Regions from separate parts of the Homo sapiens genome. Here all the other regions are linked to region 1. The links come from fine-mapping of genetic effects on gene expression. A gene starts in region 1. Each other region holds a variant in brackets. All regions are shown on one strand. Distances are between the middles of the regions.

Region 1 (6,359 bases):
CTGAGGTCAGAAGTTCAAGACCAGCCTGGCCAACATAGCGAAACCCCGACTCTACTAAAAAATACAAAAATTAGCTAAGCGTGGTGACGGGCACCTGTAATCCCAGCTATTCGGGAGGCTAAGACAGGAGAATTACTTGATCCTGGGAGGCAGAAGTTGCAGTGAGCCGAGATGGCGCCACTGCATTCCAGCCTGGGCAACAGAGACTCTGTCTCAAAATAAATAAATAAATAAATAAATAAATAAATAAATAAATAAATAAATAAAAATACAGGGCCAGCACTAGTATCCAATATCATGATCTCTAGTGTCATCATGAAGAAAACCCCATCTTCCACAAGCTGGACTCCAACTGCCTATTCTAGTATTTGAACACTTTCTGTGAATTGCGCTCTACACAAGCAAAATATAAGATTTTCCCTTCATATCAATGTCTTCCACTTAAATAGTCCGCTATTGCCATCCATCTTGGGCTGCTCTTCCTTGGATAAGCACAGGTATCATCACTCTTTTTGTGATAATGTTTATACAACAGATCTCTTAGAGTACCACCCGCAGCTTTCTTCTTAAGCACAGTGGAGTACAGAAGTGCATCTTAATCAGCCAAGTACACTGGTGCCCTTCTCCTTGTGACTAAGCACCTCAACATCCTTAACATCATGCACCTCTAATTTTCTCTTCCGTCTCCACTATTCCTAGGACATTCAATTAGTGGTTTTGAAATTCTAAAACAATCATGTGGGTGCTTACACAAATGGCACTGAACAGCACCATGGAGAATGTACTCAATAGCAGTTTTCTGAAGATGTAAACATGCTTTGTATACATGCAGTTTCTCAGGCCCATCTCAAAAAAACAAAAAAACTTTTTTAAAACAAAAGGCATAATGTTAAAATACAAATCATTGATAACATGGTTTTGGGGACAAGATAGGTTGACTATATTTTTAATTATCCCTATCCAAGAATGTTGCATTCTGATCATCTAACTCATTTCAACAGAACACACTATCTTGAAGAATGAATGTATTCTTCAAATATCAACTATGTTAGCTTTGTTTTTGTCAAGAATTAGAAAGCAATAAGGTTAAATTTTCAGTCAAGCCTATACTTAACACAAATCGATTGCACATTTCAAAATAGCTAGAATAATTTGAATGTTCCTAGTGTAAATAGAAGATAAATATTTAAGGGGATGGATATCCCAATTACCCTGATTTGATTTTATGAATTTATCGAATTATCACGTTATCCAAAAACATGTTCATCTAATATGTATCAATAAAAAATAAATTTAAAAATAAAAAATTCACAATATTCTTCGTGGCTAACTGAAGAATGACCAATTTATTTTGAATAGAAAACATGCAGACAGAAAAACTATCATGAAAATTTAAACATGTGAACAGAGGGTAGGAATTTTAAAACGGTAATTTTTCTTAGAACTTTAAAGTTCAAGAAAAATACCTTAAAACCAACATAAAGAATAGCAGGCACTGTACTAAGCAGTTCACCCACAGTATCATGTTTTAATCTCACCACAGCCATAAGGCGGTAATAGCATGCATAGATATCATTCCAATTTTTCCTGTTGCAAGTAACAGAAAACCAGACCCCATCTGGCTGAAGCCAGTAAGAGAAAAGACTAACAGGAGGGCCAGCCTCAGGACTCAAATACGTCACCAGGACATGGGTTGCGTCCCAGTCTCAGCTCTGCCAGTTCCTGTAGAACCCTCCTTCCAAGGTTCACAGGGTGGCTACCATAGCTTCAGGCCCTCACCTCATGATAAGACAGCAATACAACTGCCATTTCATGTCTGTTGCTGTTTCTACATTCAGTTAGAATTAAATAAATTTTCCAGTAGCACCCACAAAAATACTGAGTCCACCTGGTTGGCCTACCTAGATATATCGCCAGCCCTGATCAAGTCACTGGTCACGGGCCTGGATTTTCTGGTTCGCTTAGGCTAATCATACGTCCCATCCCAGGACTGAAGAAGTACCAGGGCTGTTGCTGGAGAGTGGCTAATGTCCCCTTTACAAATAAGGAGCTCATGGTTTAGGAAGATGAGCTTGCCAAAAATCACACACTTGTAAAATAAGTCAAAATTTGAACTTAAGTCTACTTATCTGAGCCCAAAGTCTTACAACCATTTATGGCTGTTATCCTAACACCTACGTCGCGGAACGGAAGAGTCCTAAGACTGCAAAGACCCTTCCTTTTCTTCTAGATCCAGTCTAAGTTGGTTGGTAATTTCTTTAGACCCTGCTTTCAGGGAAGTTTAAAAAAAATTACTTGCATTTGTATATTTTCCTTGTATTTTCGGCCAAATTTCTTCTAATTAAAGTACAACATAAGTTGAACCAACACAATAATTGTCATATTAAGAAAAGATAAAACAAACTTTACTCATTTCTGCTTCTGGGCATGGAGTGTGAGGGACCAGACTTAAGTTCTCAAACAACTACAAAATCAGACCAAAAAATACAATGGTTTCCAGGCACCGGACGACAGGCAGTGCAGGGCTGTGATCCTTAAGAGAAGGGAAGCAGCGAGCCAGAGTATCCAGGCCACAACCCAAATGGAGGCCAAGAGAGGAACAGCAGAGGATACAGAGGGAGGGTTCCAGGGGCCAAGACGCAATCCGAGGGGAAGCCCTTCCGGGGAGAGCTGGAGTCCTGGGGTGGCCTTCTCGAGTCTTCCCGAGCAGGTCTGTGCAGCGAGGAAACATCCGAGGCTGGAGTGAGCCACGCGGAGGAGGAAGAACAGCCCGAGCTCACAGGGGCGGGGAAGAGTTCTAGCTCGCGACAGCCCCTGGGAGGAACCCTGCACTATTTGTGGCGTCGAGTAAAGCACCGGAAGGCTCTGCTCAGGAGCGTGAACGACACCGCCCGCTGCAAGCCTGGAAAGGAACGCGTTGCCTCAATTCACTCCGATGTGTCACACACGCGGCTCAGTCACCTAGGGAGCAGGAAAAGGCCAGCGGGCCACGCAGGGCTCACCCGGGCCTGCATCCAAACGCAAACGGCCAGGCCCACGAAGCAGGAAACACAACCCGCAACGAGAAGCAAAGGGATCCACAGAGAAGGGCCAGGAGTCACGGACGACGCCAGGCAGTCGGCGCCTGCGCTTCCGCGAGCCAAGACGCCTGAGCGGCGCGGGGGGATCGGGGGATCCCCCAGAAAACTGCCCTCGACTAACAGCGCAGCGAAGGGGCGGTGCGCTCGAGACCCTGGAACGGGAACGACCACAGCCACCGCAGGGAAACAACCGGGGCCCAGGCCCAGGTGGGCGGGCGGCTGAGGAGCGTGGCTGCGCCCACAAAGCCGCCGGGGGCTGCGGACTACAGCGAAGCCGGCGCGGGGCTCGGCCCTCACTACACGAGGCCTGGGCGCCTGCACGCCCCCGTGCTTCAGCCCGCGGCTCCCGAACACCCCCGCCAGGCGATCCCCAAAAACGCCCGCTGCGCGAGCCTCGACGGGAACGCACCTGCGTCTAGACGCTGACGCCGTGCGCGGGGCGGGGGCCGGCGAGCATGCGCAGTGTGGTGTGGACAGGGCGTGGTTGGCAAGCATGCGCAATGTGGGCCGGGCGGGGCTGGCGAGCATGCGCAGTATGGGGCGGGGCGGGGCAGGGCTGGTGAGCAAGCCCGCGGGGAGCGAGCGCGGAGGCGGGCGTTGCTACGGCAACGGTGGGCGGCCAGGGAGTTGCCTGAGGGAAAAGGGGCAGACGTCCCTGGGTTCCGGTGTTCGCGGAGGAGTCGAGGCACGGAGAGGCTTCGGGGGAGGGACGGAAAGAAGGGTGGCCCGCCAGGCGGGCGGGGTCCATGGATTCGGGGTGAGGGCCGTCCGCGGCCTCGCTTTCGCCTCCTCCGAGCCGGGCCGGCGATGGCCGCAGCTGTGAGGCGAGGTCGGGTCCCGTAGCGGCGCGCAGCCTCCTTGGGGGACTCGGGGTCCTGGTTAGTTTCCACAGCTCCTTCTATCTGAGGGGTACGAATTTACGGCTGCCTAAAGCCTTAGAACAGTGATCCCACGTCGGTAATTTTAGAACCCGGTAGGACCGGCTGCCATCAGGGGCCCCAGGTGCAGGGTGGTGTCAGCTTTGAGAGGAATTGGAGCCTCGTCACCGCGCGCTTCCTGCATGAGTGGAACCTCAGAAAACGGTCAGCGGGGTTCAGAAGGCAGGAGATAACACCAAGACCCTACGTAGGATTGCATCTTTACGTCGTAGGCTTGGTCTCGTGTATTTTTATTGAGCGTGTTTAATTAGCTGAGGTTACTCGCTTTGGCACCCCAGTGATCGTTTTTGCCACCAAGCTCTGCCTCTTGAGCGTTTAATACTGGGATTTACAAAGCAACGGGTTCCTGTTAATCTTAGCTTTCAATACTGGGCAAGGGTTACGTTTCTAACCCTACCAGTGCCGCAGGCTCATTATATATTGAAGGACTCACCTGGTATTTGGTTTTCTCATTTATAAAGTGGAGTTGGAGTAGGTACTTGAAGGGTTTTCAATACCTTTAAATTCTGAATTTTAAACTCTAAAACTTAATGATACCGTAGGACTTTAAGAGAGTATAGGTTTTAAAAGCTCTTACCTTGATATTAATGACAGTGGTCTACTGTGTAGAAACTTGAGATTAAATTGCAGACTGCAGCTATGACCGGACCATTTTTAGTGTGATGCAAACTGTATCTTCTGCAGGTTATAGGCATTTTGGAAGCAGGAACTGAGAAAATTCTGGCAGTGATCTTTCAGTATTTTAAATTCCACCATTTCTCCAAGTTCAGTTGTCTTGATGAGATACAGGGTGGAACTTATTTCAAACATCTCTTGATGCCAGAATTGAACGGGAACAGAAAAGGGCTGTAGTAAGAACCATCATCAAAGCCTCCAGGACTTGAGCAGCGACTGACGTTTTTACTTCTAACCCTGGATATCTCAGAGATTTGGTTCCACTGTGCTTTTCTATCTCTCCACTCACGCCTTAGTGAGTTTGTTCTTTCGGTTGGAGTAATTTAATACAAGTGTTAGTCCTTAGAAATACATTTTGGATTAATTTCTTTCTATTTTTAGAGTTAGGCCCTCAACACAGTAAGTCTTCACTTAACATCATCCATAGGTTCTTAGAAACTGGAGCTTTAAGCCATGCAGTGTACAAGGAAACCAGTTTCACCATAGGTTAATTGATATAAATAAGAGGAAAGTTCCCACAGCACATTCCTGGTCACAAAAACATCGCCAAACTTCTAAATAAAGACCAAAGCACTTCTAATATGAAACACTGAAGTACATATGAGCTCTACATTTAAGAAATATCATTACCCAATTTCTGGTGAATCCATGAGTGACCGGGTTGTGGAGGGGCTGTGTTAAAGATAATGTTGGCCAAGCCAAAGCTCTGAAGCACCTCCCCCTACCATGCAGTTTCAAAACAAACAGGAGCCACTTCTCAGCCCGCTGGGCCTTTCTTACTGCATCGGGTATTGTCCTGCATCTCTGTGTGAATACCGTATGCTTTACGAGTTTTTATTTGACAATAATTTGTATCCTTTCATTTTCCAACCTGCTTATTCCAGTTCAGGGTGGCAGGGGGCTGAGCCCATCCAGGCAGCTCAGGACCAAGGCGGGCAACAGTCCTGGAGAGGACGGCATCCCATGGCAGGGCACACTCACACTCACTCAGACGGGGACGCCCCAGTGAGCCTCACGTGCACAGCTTTGGGATGTGGGAGGAACCCGGGGTACCTGGAGGAAACCCACAGCACATGGGGAGGACGTGCAAACTCCAAACAGACAGTGGCCCCTGCTGGGGATCAATTTTTTTTCTCATCAGCGTTATAGGGAAACAACATTAGAAGAAATATGTTCAAGGGCCTTCTGTGCCAGTTCCTAGATTACTTGAATAACTTTCTATTTCTCCTCATCACAGTATATTTTGAATACATCTGTCTTCATAAAATACACCATGTCCAAAATCTAAAAGGGCCAATTCCAAATTATTCCACCAGCTTTGAAGGGAATTGAAGCAAGAATAACAAGAGTAAGTTCTGTGTGAAAAGACCTACTTTAGATACTTCAAAGGTTGTCTCATTAATCCTTGCGGCAACCCTGCAAAGCCAGCGTTATTATACCTGCTTTATAGATGAGGAGCCTGGGGCTCAGCTGTGTCCAGTATCTTGCGCAGCAAAGCGGTAGAGTTCAATTGGAACTCAAGTTGGTCTGTCCCCATATTCTGTACTTCTGTGTTCTGGACAGACTGAAGTTAGCCAGTGTTCCTCTTGCGTTCCAGTTTCTTCATTGTTCCCTTTCTCCCCAAAATAAGCATATCATGCTGATTTCCAGCCTGCCAGTTCTTTCC
Region 2 (6,359 bases), 40 kb after region 1:
AAGTTTACCATCATTTTGGATGAACTGCATGAGTTCTGGGTTAAGTACTACAATGTAATCTGTTTCCCAGGGAAATAAGCTATTGGTAGTTGTAGGAAATCTTAGTATATTTTAAAAGCTGACATCCCACCTAATTTTAATCTTTGGTCTCTAAAAAGTAAATTTCAAATTTATGAGTTTAATCACTTCAAATATGAATAGCAAAAAATGAGAGCTTGCTTACTTCTAAAAATTGAGGTTAAGATATAGCTAGTGTCTGAACGACACTCCTTAAAGTAAGTTCCAAATGTAAAACACTCCTTAAGTTCCAAATGTTTTCCGCTAATAGTCTGTCCTAAAGCCTTTGCCATTCCTAATACTCGTTTTGTAATAATTGCTGTATTTCTGTGTAATAAAATATAAAAATAAAATATTCAGTGGTATTCAACATCAAAAAAGTGCAAATTTTAATGTCTTAGAGCAATAAAGACTGTTTTAGTTCACACATTTTAAAAAAAAGTGAACCTTTTTGGATAAGAATTGTTTTTGTCACTGGTTTACTATTACTGGGAGCTTGGTTATTTACAGTAACCAGTTACAGTCTCATCGGTTAGGTTACCCCTAGCCGAGTAACAGATAAAGCCCCAACTCTCAGTGGCTCGCTGAAGACACATGATTTCTGAGGTGTCCAACCCATGTCAGCCATGGGTGAGGCAGGGCGAGGGTACACCATGTGTGACCCTGGCTCCTTTTGTCTTGTGACACAGTCTCCTTTGCCCCCGAGTCCCCAGTGAATCCTGTCACTGCTGGTGGAGGGGCAGGAGGACATTGTTCCAGGCCATGCTTGGGAGTGGCGCTCATCACTCCAGCCACAGTAACTACAAGGGGCAAGGAAAGGGCAGGGTGTAGGCCTAAGAGGAAGAGGCCAAGTGGGTGTGCACATGGCATGGGCTCAGAATAACCCAGCATCTAATGTGAGAAGAAATGCCAAAATTTCTATTTATTCTTATCTCATCCCTTAGAAAAAATACTCTCCTATGTTTTGTGATGTACACATTATATAGCTACATATGTATGTATCATTTATGAATAAATATGCATATATTGGGATGTGCTCATTTTTTAAGGATGTATACTATCAAAAAATTTGCAGACTAATTTGGAGAATGCTTTAAACAATGAGTAAGCACTTTTATTCTAAGAGAGCAGAGGGAAACTGAATCACAGAACCTCAATTTTCTGTAAGCTGACATCTCTCTCCCCATAGCGTTGACAGGCAAAGCACAGGCACGTGTCAAAGGCCAGAGCAGTCCGATTCCGCCGCCCTAAACTTTGGATCTAGAAGGAGAGTCCCGGAGATACATGGATCATTCAGTGATGGGAAGAGCCCAGGAAAGGTTGTGCCTAAGGCTGTGCCCAACACTTCTTCCGGGGCTTTCTCATCACATCTGTGAGCCATGCCATCCACCCCGTAAACCTTCCGTGCCTATGTTGGCAGAGTCCATCTCTATTCTTTGCAACCAAGTGCAGTACTTTACTGACACAGGAACTAGTGTTAGTTGCAGGCAACAGATACTTAGGAAAATCGGTGGGATGAAAGGCAGGAATGGTCATCTAACTTCACTGAGGATGAGGGTCGCGAAAATCCCATGAGTTCTGAGGAATGGTCCAGGGCAGCCTGTGACAGTTAACAGAAAATCAGGCAATTTTCTTACTGAAAAGTGGCCATGGAATGGCGCGCCCATCGAAAGCTTGCGAGACCAAGTTGCAACCACAGAACGCTAAAAAGGACCTGAATGAAGTAGCTACTTCTCTGGACAATTTGAAGATAACGCCACATTGTCAGGTCAAGTCAGGAAAACAGTGCAAGCTTTTATACAATTACTCCACAGCCTCATCAGGTCTCTTCTATAAAAACTGGGACACTGACCAAGAAAGAGTGGGGCCTTTGGAAACATGAGTTCATGGGAGGACTCAGCGGACAGGGAGAGCCCTGTCTGCTGCCCTCATTGTGTCTTCCTGGTCAGCTACAGCAGTCCCTACGGGATGTGGCCATTCCTCCCTTATTTTAACAGGTTGGAACCCACTTGTCTGACAGTCACCTTGCAAGATGAAGCCACTTCTTGTGCCTTCTCACACATCCCTTTTTGCCTTTAAATCCACTTAATTAGGAGCCTACCATTCCATGGGCGGGGGGAATCATTAAATCACTATCAAGTCCAGAAAGAGAATTCTTAGCGAATTGTGGGACTGGAGGCATTTGATAAGAATAAAGGTTATAATCTAGAATGAGGATACCTGTCATGAATCTTTATCAACCAGATAATAGAACTGTAAGGTACATGAATGAACAAGAAACTGAAAACCTAAAACAAAGAAAAAATGAGACTGCGGTTGTACTGGCCTGTATTTACATCCAGTTCATCTGCCCACTGTAAGCGTGACCCCAGGCAAATGTCTGCAGCTTTCTCAGTGGCGTTCCTTGTCGGTAAAATGCAGATGTGTATTTTCGGCTTCGCAAGGTGGTCCTGGGGGTGACTGTGGGACGACAAAGAACTCGACCCTCCACACCACGCCCCAGGCCCCTCTCACCACCCCT[G/A]CTTCCAAGTCTTTGATGAGATTCCACAGTAAAGACTAAAAAGAAAAGAAAAAGTGAATCACTCTTCAGACTGAAGGATAGCCAGGCCAGAGAGGTGGCGAGGAGGAAGTGAGCAGGAGGAGGACGATGCTCCACTTGTCACTTAGTTCTCTGACTCTACTGTGGAGTCCATATAGAACAACTGTGGATGACTTCAAGATGCTGTTAAAGAGAAGTTGCAGAATCAATATAAATAGCTACAGCAGTATCAAATATGCTTGGTTCTGAAGTGTCAGTGTTTGTAAGCGGCATCGTTCATTCAGTAACAGCTTTTCAAAGGAAAGGAAAGGAGAAGACATTACAACAGCCACAAAACAGTTTTAGTAACTGTTAAAACTTCAGTTCTCAGACCCATAGCCCACACGTGACTCTCCACCTCCTCACACTCAGACACAACAGATTCTTCTACATCACTCTAGTCCTCCACAACCACTCACATCAGGGCCGCCCTGCTGTTCATAATCCAGGCTCATAAACTTGACTTCTGTACCACCTTTAGAAGTAACAGCAGAACACCAAATCCATATCCAAGAATAATGAGGTTTTGTGTGAAGTTCCTATTTGATTATAGTTAACCTTGAAAAAATTTTTTCCTAATTAAAGAACACAGAATTGGAAGTTAAATAACTTCTCTTGAAAAGGTAAGTTTATTGCCTAATATTCCTTCAAGACATATGGATCAATCACCAAGTTTTGAAATTTTGTATATATTTGTGAGTTTTAGGAACTTCTCCTGATATTACATTTTCTACAGTGCAACAAGTAATTTGCGTACACAGTACTTTTGCTTCAGTTGTGTTTGCAGCAATAATTTTTACCTAAACAATATTCAAAAACCAAAAAAAAAAAAAACTCCAAAAAGGTCTTTGTATTATTTCTTCTTTTAAACCACATTCCAAAGGGATGCTTTTCAAACTGAAGTCTGCCATCTATTAGGAGGCCACAAAGTAACTTAGTGTCTGTGTCTAGTATTTTTAAAAATAATAAAACAGAAGATGCCAGCATGCACACTTAGGAAAAACAAGTACTGTCTTGTTAAATTTTTGCTTATACGTATCTGAGAGACAGAGAGAGAGAGAGAGAGAGAGAGAGAGTGTGTGTGTGTGTGTGTGTGTAATGGGTTATTTCTTACTGTGGTCAAAAAGTTGAAAGCCACTGTAAGTAGGCTTCTGTCTGCCAGTAAATTAACCAGATGCTAACAGCATTTATTCTTCCAGGAACTCTGGGTTAAGCTGTCCAGACCACAAGTAGGTGCTGTTCAGTCCTTTTATGGAAAAAATTAGAGAAATCAAGTCTAAATAATTCAAGTAATTAAATAAAATACATGCTATCAATTATTGATGCTACATTGTGGGTTATAAGAAATTGATCTACCAATAACTGCACAACAGAGAAAGAAAATATCCATTTCTTAATTCAACATTCATCAGAATAATTACTGCCCTCTATAAAACTGAAATGGAATTAAACTATAAATACCCTTAAGTTTTAGCCATGATAATATTTAAGATGGAAAAAACAAAAGAACAAATAAACCCCACATATAAATGCTTATAAACCAAATATGAAATCACTTTTTGTACAACTTTTAATTTCTAAGACATTTAAAAAGTCACACTAAAAGTATCTCATAGAAACAAAGACTAACAATTTGTAAACAAAACAATCTGTAAACAAAAATCAATTACTAGTGTGTCCAAATGTTATTTTTAAAAGTTAACATTATACCAGTTTTTTCAAGTTTAAAAAGTCGGTGCTGCATCTATGTTCACATTAAAAAAAAAAACTTGTAAGAATTCTGCCTTTATGCATTAAATAACGTGCTACCAACAAAACTAGCACATAAGAGCCTGTAAATGATGAAAACCTGTGTCCCTGGCAGACGAGGTCATCACTGAGGCTGCAGGGAGGGCCATGGGCACCCAGCAGATGGGGAGGCCGCACTGCCGCTGAGAGCAGGTACACGTGCGCCTTTAACACATCTGAGAGCAAAACGCGAGAGGCTCCGTCCATCTCTACTAACCAGCACCTTAGTGCAGCAATTTAAGGAGCTAACATTAGTGTGTATGTGTGTACAAATTTCATGTAAAGCCTCATATTTAGAGGTCTATTTTTACAGAGAATGTACATAAAGCTACGTAAATAGTAAATCTAAGAAGTATCTTGGAAAATCAGTAAAAATTAATACAAATGTTATAATCTGAAAACTTATAATTGTAAAATAATTTATTTAAGTATTGCAGAACCAATTAATAAGAATCTGCAAGTTTTCCCCAAGAAACTCTGGAACCATAGTGCCTAATGCCCTTTAAAATCGATACTAAAGGAGAGAGAATAAAAGGACTGCTTGATGTGACAGTCACTGGTGCATCCCTATCCAGTCAGAAACAAAACTGTAGCTCCAGAATTGACCTGATGATGAGCATCTGCAGCTCTGCCTTCCAGGGTCTATCTCCTCTCTTTCACTGGCGTGCAGGAACTGCAGTAAAATGAGGACCCCCAGAGCGACTGTCCTTACCAGGACTCAGAACGTTTGGCCTCCGTATTCTGGCATCCATTTCTGGAGTTCGTCATATAAAGCAGCCTCCGACCTAGCTCCAATGGAAGCACCTGCATTTGGAGTCAGTCTCTCCAGAGGCAGATGCTTGGGCATGTGCTCAGGAAGAGCCTCGAGGAACCGTGATTACGCAGCAGCCCAAGGCTGTAACAATCTATTTGTTCTCAAGGCATATGAGTCCCAGGTTCGAAGCCGTCCTTCCACCCCATGCATATCCTTTGCTTCAACAGCAGTGAGGATGCCTCCAGGAAGTGTATTGTACTCAGGGCTTACAAATCCAAAACTGGCTTAAGTCCTCGGATGGAGAGAAACTTCCAAATGAACAAAAAGTTGAGCTAAACACTGAAAAGTTTAGTATTTTACTTAAAAATTTTCAGACATTTTCCAAGTATCTAGGAACTCTTTGGATGTGCCTGAAAGTGGTGTAAGTGAGAAGTGATATTACTCTACTCCTGAGTTTCTTTCTGTTCTTCCCTTCACTTGGTCTGCTCAAAGTATGGACTCCAAGCTTCACTAAAAATCAAACCTGGCAATTAATACTTCAATAGGCATAACAATGAAATTGGAAAAGAGCTGAATTTTATTAACTTTTTAGGTATGTCGATTTTATGCTGAGAAATTCACCAGTACTATACTGGTGGTATTTACTGAAGCTTGTTTAGAATCACAAAATGAATGTTCTTTTATTTTAAAACCAAGCTGCATTTTAGAAAGATGTGAAGCTCGGAAGGAAATGCAGACGTATAAATAAGGGGGAAGTGTACTCAACAAAGGTTGTAAATATACAGATTAAAGTTTCTTATTATTTTGGTTTAAAGTGGAAATTTCTGATGTCAAATAGACACAGCCTGCGTTTCATAAATTTCTCCCAGAAAACCTTTAAATGTAACAATTTGAAAAAAATGTTTTACTTTTGTCTGAACACAGACCATCTATTTTCATACACACAGTGCATGTGAACATATTTATATAGCAGACTGCATAACTACGAATTGTGTGCAAATGGGCCCATCTCCTATTTTTGCATGCACAGATTTCGGTATTCTATCCTAGTGGATGGTTGACACAGAGTGCAATTTCATAGTTTTTATTCAGTGGACTTAAAGCCAAGAAACCATCCCAATAATTATTTACAATTTAATAACTGAATGATTATCAGATCGTGTTATACTGCAAAACTGTTCT
Region 3 (6,359 bases), 180 kb after region 1:
AACTCACATTACTTAAAATTAGCGATTTTAAAGTGAACAATTCAGTGGCATTTGCACTGAACTGTTCATTTGCAATGGTGTGCAACCACCACCTTTACCTAACTCCGAAACATTTTTATCACCCCCAAAAGGAAAACCCACAAAGCAGCTGTATCATTGTTTTTCAACTTATGGAAATGAAGAGTTTCATATTTTCCTATTAATTTTTTAACAGTACACAAGATATAGAAAATGTATAGAAGTGGATACTTTATTTTTTCGGTCCATTTTTTAACCCTTTTTCCTATTTTAACAACAAAAAGAACTTACACTACCATTTTAATTTGTCATCTCTGCCCTATCCTACAACAAACTACAGTTGCTGGCATGTCATGGACCCACACTGTGTGAATGACAGAACACATCTCACAGCATCAAGCTGACAAGTGATGACAACCACCAGCCAAAACCCAGAGGCCAGAGGATCATCATCAGGTCTCCTAACTCCAATGCTCCAATGTCATTTTTCTGTATCACATTTTTCAAGCTATTTTCTCACTGCAGACAGAGATACATCTTGCTTACATGACACAGTTTACTAAGGTTATTATTTTATTTGTGTTACAAAATTCTTGCCCAGAAAAGTAAAGTAGCATTCCAAGGTAATATGGTTAACACATAACATCTCAAACCTGTATCCAAAATCCAAACACTATATTTAAGCCAAACTAAATATATTTGCACATACAAAAAAAAGCATTATCAACACATTTAGCCTCTAATCCATATGTGATTTACACATTAAAGGCACAATCAAAAACATCCATACTGACAATTTTATAAAATAAGCCATTAAATTTCCTTTCAAATTCACTTTTGCCAAAATATTCCTAATGATATAATTATAATGACTTTTATTCCTTCAATCAATCAATATTTATTGAACACTTTCAACATGAAAGTACTAGAACAGATGCTCCATGGGAGATTAAAGGAATCTGAACATTTTCTGAGTACTCACAGAATCCCATAAATGTCACAAAACTGTAAATGACAGATTGACAAATGAATATTAGTGATATAACTGTGCTCTGGGGAAAAGGAAATAACCAGACCGTTCGTGAACTTCTGGACACTGGCTCTGAACTGACACTGATCCTAGGAGACCTTCCCTGTGGCTCTCCAGTCAGAGTAGGGGCTTATGGAGGTCAGGTAATCAGTGGAATTTTAGCAGAGGCCCAACTCAGAGCGGGTCCCTGAACCCATCCTGTGGTTGTCTCCTCTCTTCCAGAAGGCAATTAATGGAATGGAATGGCTAGCAGAATCCCCATACTGATTTCCTGACCTGTGGAGTGAGGGCTATTATGGTGGGAAAGACCAAGTGGAAGCTACTAGAACTGCATCTACCTGGGAAAACAGTAAACCAAAACCAATACTGCATTCTTAGAGGGATTTCAGAGATTACTGCCACCGTCGAGGACTTGAAAGATGCAGGGGTGGGGATTCCCACTACACCCCCATTCGATTCTTATCTGGTCTGTGCAGAAGACAGACAGAGCTTCCAGAATAACAGAAGATTATCGTTAAGCTTAACTAGGTGGTGAGTCCAATTACAGCTGCTGTACCAGATGTGGCTTCATTGCCTGAACAAATTAACATGCCACCTATCTGGTATGCAGCTACTGATCTGGCAAATGCTTTTCTCTCTGTCCCTGTTAGTAAAGACCACTAGAAGCAGTTTGCTTTCAGCTGACAAGGCCAGCAATACGCCTTCACTGCCCTACGTCAAGGGTATATAAATTCTGTAGCCCTGTATTATAATTTAGTTCACAGAAATCTTGATCACCTTTCCCTTCCATAGGATATTAATATCACACTGGCCCATTATGTTGACGATATTTTGCTGATTGTAACTAGTGAGTGAGAAGTTAACAACCACTCTAAACTTATTGGTAAGACATTTGTGTGTCAAAAAGTGGGAAATAAATCTGACAAAAATTTAGGGGCCTTCTATCTCAGTGAAATTTCTAGGGGTCCAGTGTTGTAGGGTATATGGAGATATCCTTTCTAAGGTGAAGGATAAATTGTTGAATCTGGCGCCTCCTGCATCAAAAAAGAGGCATAACATCTAGCAGGCCTCTCTGGACTTCGAAGACAACACATTTCTCATTTGCGTGTGTTGCTCCAGCTGGTTTACTGAGCGGCCTGAAAAGCTGCTGGTTTTGAGTACAGCCCAGAAGGAGGGAAGGCTCTGCGGCAGCTCCAGGCTCTGTGCAGGCTGCTCTGCCTCCTGGGCCACATGACCCAGCAGATCCAAGGGTGTCTGAAAGGGCAGAGGCAGAGACGCATGCTGTGTGGAGCCTTTGGCAGGTTCCTCTCAAGGTGAACTGCAGCACAGGCCCTTAGGATGTTGGGGCAACGCCCTGCCATCCTTGTGGGTAACAACTGCCTTTGAGAAACAGCTCTTGACCCACTATGGGGCTTTAGTAGGGATTGAATGCTGAAACATGGACCACCAAGTTACCATGGGACCTGAGTTGCCCATCATGAACTGAATGTTTTCCGACCCACCAAGCCAGAAAGTTGGGTGTGCACAGCAGCATTCCATCATCAAATGGAAGTGGTACATGTCTGGGCCTAAGTAGGCCCTAAAGGCACAAGTTACATAAAGAAGTGCCGCCAATGCCGACGGTCCCCACTCCCGCTACGCTGCCTTCTCTCTCCCAGCCTGCACCTACAGTCTCCTGGAGAGTTCCCTAAAATCAGCTGACGGAGGAAGACCTGGGCCTGGTTTACAGATGGTTCTGCATGATATGCAGGCCCCCACGTTAGTGGACAACTGCAGCACTACTGCCCCTTTCTGGAACATCCCTAAAAGGACAGCGGTGAAGGGAAACTCTCC[G/A]ATGGGCAGATCTATGGGCTGTACATCTGGTGGTTTGCTTTGCTTGGAAAGAGAAATAGCCAAATGTGTGATTATTACATATTAATGGACCATGGCCAATGGTTTGGCCAGATGCTCAGAGTCTTGAAGAAACACAATTGGAAAACTGGAAATAAGAAAATTGGGATGAGGTACATGAACAGACCTCTTTGAATGGGAAAAAAATGTGAAAGTATTTGTGTCCCATGTGAATGCTCACCAAAGGGTGACCTCAGCAGAGGAAGATTTTAATAATTAAGTGGATAGGCTGACTGGCTCTGTGGATACTAGTCAGCCTCCTTCCCCAGCCACCCCTGTCATTGCCCAATGGGCTCAGGAACAAAGTCACCATGATGGTAGGGACGGAGATCATACATGGACCCAGCACCTTCTACTCACCAAGGCTGGCCTGGCTACAGCCACTGCTAAGGACCCAATCTGCTAACTGTGACTTTTGTTTTCCAAATCTCCCCACCAAATATTTATTTATTTAAACACACACGAACATGTTTATACACATACATTTCCCTAACACAGACAAAACAATTAAAAGACAAATTTCCATAGCATTGTAATGTCCCATATTGCACAAAATACATGCCTTTGCTTACGAAAACCTTCATAAAATGTATGAACTTTTTAAAACCTAGTAGGAGCAAAGTATTACAAAACTACAGTCTTTAAAACAATATGGCACTGGCATAGGAATAGACAGACAAACCAGAGGGAAAAAACAGAAAGTAAAACTCAGCATTTATTTCCTGCTTACTCTTGGCCACCAGGCAATAGACTAGGTACTTTATACTATACATATATTCCACTTACTACATATAATAATTCTATAAACTAGACCTTGATATGGTCATTTTATAGATAAAAGACTGAGACTCTGAAAGCGTAAACAATATGCTCAAGGTTGCTAAGGGTTTCAGACAGATTTGAAATTCAAGCCCAGGTCTATCTGACTCCAAAACCTGCATACCTGAGCCCAGAAACAAACGCTAATATAATATTTAGCTTACTGAAAATGAAGCATAAAAAATCAGTACAGAAAAGAATATTCAATTAATGGTATTGGGACAACTAGCTGTCATATCTCAGGGTGGGAAACAATCTTCTAAACACAAAAACAATTAGAGACACCAAGAGAAAAAGAAAAACCAAATATTATAAAAAATATTCAAATTCTGGAAAAAAGCAATTAATATTAAAAAGCAAAATAACAATCAGAAAAACATGTAAAAAATTGAAATGAAAAGCTGATGTGTTCAAACAAAGAGATCATAAATTCAATATGAAAAAAGCAACAACCACAAAAAAGGGCAAAGGACATTAATCAAATAAAATATACATGGGCTGGGCACGGTGGCTCATGCCTGTAATCCCAGCATTTCAGAGGCCGAAGAGGGTGGATCACTTGAGGTCAGGAGTTTGAGGCCAGCCTGGCCAACATGGTGAAACCCCCTGTCTCTACTAAAAATATAAAAATGATCTGGGCGTGGTGGCACACACCTGTAGTCCCCGCTCCTCAGGAAGCTGAGGCAGGAGAATCGCTTGAACCCGGGAGGTAGAGGTTGCAGTGAGCCAAGACTGCGCCACTGCACTCCAGCCTGGGCAACAGAGCAACACTTCATCTCAAAAAAATTATAATAATAAAATAAATAAATAAAAATAAAATGATATATGTATTAGATATTTTTCTATATTTTATAAATTAAAATTAAAATGTCCTATCTGACTAAAAATTTTTTAAATTAACATTACAATAATGAGAAACTACCTTCTACCCATGAAAATGGAAAAGATTTTAAAGATACTAATATTCACTGTTATTAAGTTTATGGCTAAAAACAAGAGGCACCTTCATGGTCTATCAAGAGAATATAAACAAGTAATTCTAGAAAACAGTTTAGCAATTAATACTCATTAGCCTAATAATTTTCATTCTAATTTCCATGTAAAGAAATTGTCAGAAACCCAAATAATAATGAAAATTTAAAAATCCTCTAGATGCTCAACAACAGTTTACTGGTGAAGTGAAATGTTTCACAAAGAGGACAGGGTGGGTTTGGTGCCTGAGGAACAACTCAGCTGTTTTCTATTGCAAATCTGAAAAAAATGCAGGTAGCAAGTCACTGGAGGGATAAATGGTTCCACCCTTTAAAATGACGAAATAGCCTTTGAAAACCACTAGCTTAATATATTGCTAAATACATGGCTCAGGTTACACCACTAAAAATGGTTTTGAAGAACATAAAAGGTATGGAAAACACAATATAATATTAAAGGTTTTAAAGGTATAAACTGCATATGCTATATATAATACACACATGCAGCCGGGCACGGTGGCTCACGCCTGTAATCCCAGCACTTTGGGAGGCTGAGGCGGGCGGATCACAAGGTCAGGAGATCGAGACCATCCTGGCTAACACGGTGAAACCAGTCTCTACTAAAAATACAAAAAAATTAACTGGGTATAGTGGCAGGCACCTGTAGCCCCAGCTACTTAGGAGGCTGAGGCAGGAGAATGGCATGAACCTGGGAGGCGGAGCTTGCAGTGAGCTAAGATCGCACCACTGCACCCCAGCCTGGGTGACAGAGAGAGACTCCATCTCAAAAAACAACAACAACAACAACAACAACAACAACAACAATATATATATACACACGCGCGCGCGCTGAAAAAATGTGGAGTTTTCCTTGTTTCTACATTTTAGTATTTTCTATATTCTGTATAGTGAGCACACACTACTTTATGAGCAGAAAAAAATAAGGGAGCGGTTGGTGTTGCTGTTGTTCTTAATACACAGGGCCACAGTCTCAGCAGAAGCTTACGGGATTGCTAAGGTAGCATCACCTACAAAAATTATCTTCTATACTTTCTCAAACAACAAGAGACAGGAAATAAGACAAATAAGTATATTTATCTTACATATAAAACTAGTAATCTCTTAAATTTAAACTTGCTTTTTCTTCCACTGGATTACAGCACCATGAACATAATAGCAATGAAAAAAGAATATACATTATTAGTCTAATGCACCACAGCCTTCTACAGCAACTCAAGTAATCACGTGTCACACATAAAAAGTGACATCTTGGCAACATGTCTAGTCCCGGCACTTTGGGAGGCCAAGGTGGGAGATCACTTGAACCCAAGAGTTCAAAACCAGCCTGGGAAACATGGCAAAACCCTGTCTCTACAAAAAAAACACCAAAAATTAGCTTGGCGTGGTGTCACACACCTGCAGTTCCAGCTACCTGGGAGGCTGAGGTGGGAGGATCACCTGAGCCCAGGAGGTGGAGCCTGCAGACAGCCATGATCGTGTCACTGCACTCTAGGCTAGGCGACAGAGCGAGACCCTGTCTCAATAAAAAAAAAAAAAAAAGTGATGTTTTCCAAGTGGAAAATGCCTACTATAAAAACGAAAGCACACTTAACTGTAACGCTACCACACAG

Which allele goes with the higher level. Positions count from the first base shown, and alleles are read on the strand shown. Sizes are in standard deviations (SD) of each study's normalised expression. Not every link is listed here.
In carriers of allele A in region 3, the expression in prefrontal cortex of the gene that starts at base 3,728 in region 1 tends to be higher than with G alone (large effect, 0.91 SD a copy in ROSMAP).

What was found. PIP is the estimated chance that this variant, and not a neighbour inherited with it, causes the effect.
Region 2: its variant is the best candidate, but not a certain one, in a credible set for the expression of RNF32 in lung (TOPMed, PIP 0.67).
Region 3: its variant is the best candidate, but not a certain one, in a credible set for the expression of RNF32 in prefrontal cortex (ROSMAP, PIP 0.55).

Annotation. Positions count from the first base shown.
Region 1 is chr7:156,637,047-156,643,405 of GRCh38, forward strand. RNF32 (ring finger protein 32) reads left to right here and starts at 3,728. Exons shown (of 9, transcript NM_030936.4): 1 at 3,728-3,765. It overlaps RNF32-DT (RNF32 divergent transcript), which reads right to left and starts at 3,489. Exons shown (of 4, transcript NR_026865.2): 1 at 1,902-3,489. RefSeq lists an enhancer at 3,159-3,750 and a silencer at 3,319-3,628.
Region 2 is chr7:156,676,694-156,683,052 of GRCh38, forward strand. LMBR1 (limb development membrane protein 1) reads right to left here. Exons shown (of 17, transcript NM_022458.4): 17 at 1,098-6,359. RNF32 (ring finger protein 32) reads left to right here. Exons shown (of 9, transcript NM_030936.4): 9 at 1-437. Among named protein-coding and RNA genes, the nearest start is that of RNF32-AS1, 20 kb to the left of the region's middle. The variant G/A (reference allele first, on the strand shown) is at 2,579.
Region 3 is chr7:156,818,576-156,824,934 of GRCh38, forward strand. All of the region lies in intron 4 of LMBR1 (limb development membrane protein 1), which reads right to left. Among named protein-coding and RNA genes, the nearest start is that of LMBR1, 71 kb to the right of the region's middle. RefSeq lists an enhancer at 2,113-2,613. The variant G/A (reference allele first, on the strand shown) is at 2,882.